Linked DNA regions of Homo sapiens. The protein of the gene in region 2 interacts with the protein of the main gene of each other region in a pairwise test. Each region holds a gene or a part of one and is shown on either strand. Other genes may lie near its edges.

What was found.
Region 1: the proteins of CD83 (region 2) and EIF4E interact in a two-hybrid assay, tested with the Homo sapiens proteins (one large-scale study listed by BioGRID and IntAct).

What each region holds. Positions count from the first base shown.
Region 1 is NC_000004.12:98,878,776-98,881,454, forward strand, and holds the end of EIF4E (eukaryotic translation initiation factor 4E), read right to left. Parts: intron 2,368-2,679; coding exon 2,253-2,367; 3' UTR 501-2,252; downstream 1-500. UniProt on the Homo sapiens protein: Acts in the cytoplasm to initiate and regulate protein synthesis and is required in the nucleus for export of a subset of mRNAs from the nucleus to the cytoplasm which promotes processes such as RNA capping, processing and splicing.
Region 2 is NC_000006.12:14,116,008-14,120,142, reverse strand, and holds the start of CD83 (CD83 antigen isoform a precursor), read right to left. Parts: upstream 2,372-4,135; 5' UTR 2,332-2,371; coding exon 2,295-2,331; intron 2,194-2,294; coding exon 2,078-2,193; intron 1-2,077. UniProt on the Homo sapiens protein: Transmembrane glycoprotein predominantly found on the surface of many immune cells including dendritic cells or lymphocytes that plays various roles in immune response regulation.

The DNA.
Region 1 (2,679 bases), on a different chromosome or scaffold from region 2:
TTATTATCCTTTCTTGTCCCCAGGAAAAAGGTTTAAAATAACATCATGATTCTAAAATGGTAATACCAATAATCAAATGCTACACATCAGTTATTTCAAAAATTTAGAACTGTATACATTTAATGTGTTAATTCCTCCTTTGCACCTAAAAGCTGATGCTTAAAATTGGACTTCATCTTAGAATTAAGAAAATAGATCAATTTATAATAGATACACTACTTCAGTCCCACCCACTGCCAACATACCAGTAACATCATCACTTTTAAGTAAACTCTTGAAGTACTCAAAACTATACATATTGACATAGACAGTAAGTCACCTTAACCAATTACCCAAGTTTAACTAGCAGATATTATGTACAGTATGCTGAGATTATAATAAACACAGAATTCTGATTCAGTATTTCTAGAATACTGAACAAGAGGTGTTTGTGGCATTGAGAGTACTGTGATAACCTGTGGTACCCTTTAAACTGCTTTAAAATTTTACAATGAAATCAGTGCTATTAATTTCATGTTTATTTCATACAGGGTTTTTGTCAAGTTTATCAGTTTTAAAATGATTAAGTCATAATCACCATTCAAAGACAAATTTTCCTCTCAAAATAATAATTTCCATTCTGCTACCTACAGTTTGGCTTATCCTTTGGTCTGATAGCCATACTTCATCTCACAGGACTATACAAGTATGTACTATGTACAAAACATTTTCAAGTTTGCTTTCAAATGATACCTACAAAGAGTAGATCAAGTTTTCAAGTTTACAGAATACCATACTACAACAATTTACCACTATAAATATGTCTTAACACCTGTTTATTCCATTCTATTTAGATTGCAACACTAACAAGATTCTTAATGCATATGTCCCCACCACCTGTACTTTCCCTACACTATCATTTTGACACTTAACATAGAAACAACTCAATTCAGCAACCAAGTTTTACAACCACTGTTGCTACCAATCAAATGGTGATGCATCAGATCCCAATTCTCATGAGTATTAACATATTAAGAGAGTACATTATTTACCTAAGACTGAATGACTGTGCCTTACTTTATAAAAAAACAAAGATAGCCACATCAATTTAATTCCATATATATGATACTACCTATTCAATTTATTAAAAATTGTAATAAACATAATAATCAAACTAGTGCTCCAAACTTATGCTGTTCACATGGAAGACACCACAAAAGAAGACATAATATAGAGACTGCCTTGCAATAAGAAGTACAAATTCCTTCTATAAAGATGGAGAAATAAAAGGACAAATCTAGTTGTCTAAAAGACAATTCACTGTACACATTTTATTTACAGTTTTGTACACTGTCTTAATATGAATGGGACTGCTTTTCTACTTGAGCCATTTTTAACCAAAGCAAAATAACCTAAGTAATACAAAGTGTTAAAATACAGCATAAAGATACAAAAACAGACATACTAATTCTAGTTAGGAATGTAATTATGATGTTACATTTTTTATAATCCACAATTATGTTTAGGAAATCACACAAACATAGATCACTGATTTGAATGAAATGCATAAATTTGTAGCAAAGCTTTGTAGTTACAAAAAACAAAAAAAATTACCAAAGAATGCACAAAATTAATGTTTATTCCACCTTTGTGTCATATTCCTGGATCCTTCACCAATGTTACATGAGGAAAAAAACAAAAGCAAAACAAATGAAAAACTGAAATCAGAATCACTAATATTATCAAGTAGGGAAACAAATAAATTAAAATCTAGCAGCCATCAGCAAGAGTACAGCAAAGACAATGCTGTAAAAAGAAACAAAGAAAATTGCTAGAAAACTGTATGCATCATAATCTTTCAAACCAGCAAAATATGCTTCTGCATAAAATGGAACAACAGAATTTTTTTTCCTGTAAAGTATAGAAATGCCAAGTTGTTTTCTGACTATTGTGGATAGGTAAAATCTGTATGTAATTAATGGTAATTCTACTGAACTATTACAGAGTGGGCCAGGAACACATTTATGGATTCTGGGGATGTGTACTGTAATTCTTTGATTGGGATAGTGGAAACTCTAGCCAAAAAAAAAAAAAAAAATGAACACAGAAGTACAAGACAAAGGCGAATGAGACTTCTCTTATATCTGAGTAACATTAAGATGGAAATCAAATTTAAATGCAGTCCACTCTGCTTTTTGAAGAGGCTTTGGTTCAGCTCCCAAATCTCGATTGCTTGACGCAGTCTCCTATGAGAATACTCAGAAGGTGTCTTCTTAAACAACAAACCTATTTTTAGTGGTGGAGCCGCTCTTAGTAGCTGTGTCTGCGTGGGACTGATAACCAATCACTATCTTTGGAGGAAGTCCTAACCTTTCCTTGTATACCCTCCTAGAAGAAAAAAAAAAAGAAGAAGAAAAAAGTAGTCATTAACTTTTACTCACAAGAAATACATTTAAAAATTTAGGGTTATTAGTCTTTATATTAAAAAACATAGACTTGAGAATAAAATAGGAAATTAATTATACACCCTTTTCCTTTCAGCACAATTTACTCTTCATTTTTGCGATATTCTTGGTTAATTACTTTTAAAATATTTGAGAGCGAGTCAGGTATGTTATTACTAAATTACAGGAGCATTACTATATTATTATATTGTTATTTATTATGATACTATAATTATTACTAAATCAACAGTGAACA
Region 2 (4,135 bases):
CAAAAAATAACTACGGTATGACTTTTCATTGGCACTATTCCATGGATCAACAGGAAAAAAAGAACGCCTAGAGACTGCTGTCCCTTTTTTTCTTGACAGAGCTTTCAAAGACCTTGGGGGTAAATCTCGCAAGAATTCTGTCCAATAAACAAGCTCATGCGTTACCGAGTTACGTCACCAGCTGACATCCAAGGAGAAGTCCAAGGTTAATTGCTATGGTTTAGTGGACCATTCCAAATGACCCTGTGCAAGAAGCTTTCACTCCAGAACTGTTTGAACTTCACAGCCTGAAATTTCATCTACTTGTTTCATGAGTACTTTTTAATTACTCCCCTGGGGGTATTAATAATGTTTTCTTTATTAAATAGTTACTCTCTGGAAGGGATAGTGGTTTCATGTTTTTCCCCGTTCTTTGAGATAACTAAGTCCCTGCCTGGTTAGCCCAGGGGCACTTTGATTTTCTTTATCTTAAGTTATTAAGGGAGAAAACAGAGATCAAGATAGACCTCTAACAACTCAGGATTTGGAATCAGACTGCTTCGTTCAAATCCCAACTCCACCATTTAGCTAGCTGTGCAAAAGTGGACAAGTTATTTCCCTCCCTAAGGCTCAGTTTCCTCACCTGTAAAGTAGGAATAGTAACAGTACTAATCCCTAAGTCCATTCTTCCGATGGATGGAAATGGATAATGTATGTAAATATTTACCTTGGAGCTTGGCACGTGGTGAGCATTCAAAAATTGTTTTTACAATATTTTTAAAAATACTATTGTTTTGACTATGAGAACAATTTCGGAATTGTTGTGTTCTCTGATCCCACAGTAAGTAAGGTACCAATGAAGTAGGAATATTTAACACCTTACTTTTATACACAATACAATGCTCTGAGGCAGCAGCACCATCCCCGTCATGCATAACTCATGAAGTGCTGGGCTGAATTCACAGAGCACCTTTGCAATTTATAGGGCAAAAATTAGGTGCCGTGAAGAATACACAGAAGTATGGATACAGCCACTGCCCCCCAGGGAACTGACCATCCAGTTAGGAGACACACACACAAAGAGATCACCGCAATGATGCCTTGTACTGTTAAGTGGCCAAAGACGTACAGTTTCTTATAGTATCTTTTATGGTGGGCAGAAGAACGCCCTGCATTTTGGGGAAAGCTACAAGTGCAGAGATTTGCCCCCGTGGTAAGACAGCAAATCAGTGAGAGCTACAGAGTAAGGTTGTAATATCATATTCATTTGGGTTAAAATGGAGGTGCTGTGGTAGCAGTGGCCTGACTTAAAGAAGGACCAGTGATATCAAACAGTAGCTGCTTGGCTTTGGAATGACACCATCATTGCCATCTTAGAATCTGAGAATGTTTCAGTCAAGAGGAAACCTTGAAAAAGCCTCCTTGTCACTCAGTCCACTTACAGTAGGAGCAGCAAGGCCTGTTCTTACACATGCGGGCTCCGGCTCATGCATCCACCTGATGCTCTCAAGGCTGCCAGAGGAAGGAGGAGGAGGGCTAGGGGAGGAAGCCAAGGGTATCCCACAAAGGAGATGACCACTGATAACTACCATGGATGAAATGGCCTAAGTCACTTCTGTGTCTTAGCCTTTCCTTTCAAATTGCCCCCTCCCCCTCCCATGTATCATGGGCATCACAGTCACAAAACACAAGAAATCAGAAGTCTGGAGACATTCCCCCTGTCCAATGCCCAAATCTAGGTCCCTGTTGCTTTCTTCCTGACCTGCTGGCCCACAACCACAGGTGGCCTCCAGAATTAATCCAAATGAGAGTCTCTGCCCTTCCAAAACATCTTAAGTGGATCATTCATCTCAGGCCACCTTCAGTGACAGGAAGGGGATTGAGGTCTGCGGAGAGCAAAACCTAATTCGGCCCTGTACCTGGATGCGGATGGGGTGGGGGAGGCGCGACGGGAGGCTGGGTACTCCAAGTTCAGCTGCGGGAGACGCCCCTCGCCCCCACCTGGCAGCCACAGAGGGTCGCCAGCCTAGGGGAGATGGTTCCTGCTGTCTTCAAATGAGCCCACCAAACCCCAGCCCGTGGGTATCGCAGCACCTACCTTGACCCAGGAGACCGTGTAGGGAACCTGCGGATCCCAGGGGGCGGTGCAGGGCAAGTCCACATCTTCGGAGCAAGCCACCTTCACCTCCGGCGTCGCGGGAGCCAGGCTGTAGGCTACAAGAAAGAGAGAGCGCGTCGTGAGCAAGCGACCGACGGGAGGGGGTGTCGTGGAGGGGCGGGGGGCGACAGGCGAGACAGGCGCTCGCGAGCCCTACCGCAGCTCAGGAGCAGAAGCTGGAGGCCGCGCGACATGGCTGGAGCGCTGCGCCGCTGCCACGAGCTGCAGAGCTGTGGCGCGCGGGCGCCGGCTGCCCTTTTATGCCCGCGCGTTCGGGAACTTCCCTGCGCGCCAGCCCGGGGGATTCCCCGGCGGGCAGCGGAAGCGGGTGGCGCGCCCTCCTAGTCCCGCTTAGGCCGGGGCGCCCCCGTCCCCGCCCCCTTCGCCCCCGTCCCCGCCCCCGTCCCCGCCCCCGTCGCACCCGCCGCCCTCGCCGCGTGCGCGTCCCCGCCCCCGCGCGCCCGGGCCGGGCGCCCCGAGTTCGCGTCGCTGCTGCGGCTGGCAGCGGCGACAGCAATCCCCGCGTGACGCCCAGCGCTGGGGGCTTTGCAGACCGCGCTCGCGCGCGTGACGCTGCCGTTGACCCGCAAAAGGAAGCCGGGAACCGGGCCATCCGAGCGGGATCTGCCCATTTTACGGAGGCCAAACCAGATTCCGAGAGGGTGGGCAACTTCCTCAGAAGCCCAGCCTGTCCTTGGGAACGCACTGGTGAACCCAAGTCCTCACTCTTCTCCAGAATCTGTGATAATCAAAGGCGCGTTAGATTTCCATGGAAACATACAAGTCTGTAGTACTTGGCTCCCTGCCTTCCCCGGGAGGTTATCAGTCAGTACCGTCCTGTTTAAATTATATCACCAAAGGAGAGTGTCTCCTATTAAAATAATAATTACACGCATACACAACATTTTTGGAAAAGAAAATTCTAGAAGACAATGAAATCACCTGTAATTCATCCAGGAAGTAACTTCAGTTAACATTTTTTTATATTATAAAATGTTTATAACATAACATAACGTAAAATATTTATAACATTTGTCAGTGCACAGATTGGTATTTTTAATGGTTTATTCTTCCTGCTATCTTGTAACCTACTTTCTTTTAGCTTAATAATTTGCAAGCGGTTCCACATCATTAAAAACTTCCAACAGCATCATTTTGGTCCATTGTTCAGTTGCACCATAAATTAGAATCGATTAGTGTTAGACATACAGGTTGTTTCTTTTTGTATTACTAATATTAGAAACAATACTGTGATTGCTATGGGAAACTTCAGTGTAGATAAATCTTTGCTCTAAAATTGCTTATTTTCTTAGAATAAATACCTCAAGGAAATTGTGCTAGGTGAAGGGGAGTTTCCAATTTTGTCAAATATTGCCAAAAAATTACCTGCAAGGAGGTGTCTTCAATCTATATTCCCATCTGCAAAGAGAGTGCCTGTTTGCCAACACAAACTGTTATCCAACCTTTCTATCTTTGTCCATCCAAGAGGTTAAAAAGAGTGGCATCACTATACCACCAGTTCTAATCTGCTCTTGGAAGTAGTTATATCAATTGACAGTCCCGCCAGCTTGTGTGAGTACCTTTTCTCCAGCAGCCTCACCAAATTAATTTTTTAATTGTGAAAATGTTAAGCATACAAAATAAGTATAGAAAATATGGAATTGAACACATCTGTATACAATTTATTCTTGAGAAATAAAACAGTACTAACATTTTCGAGACCCTCTTTTTTTTTTTTTTTTTTTTTTTTTGAGACGGAGTCTCGATCTGTCTCCCAGGCTGGAGTGCAGTGGCCGTGATCTGAGCTTACTGCAAGCTCCGCCTCCCGGGTTCACGCCATTCTCCTGCCTCAGCCTCCCGAGTAGCTGGGACTACAGGAGCCCGCCACCACGCCCGACTAATTTTTTTGTGTGTGTATTTTTAGACGGGGTTTCACCGTGTTAGCCAGGATGGTCTTTTGAGACCCACTATGTGTCCTCTGCCAGATCTCATACCTAG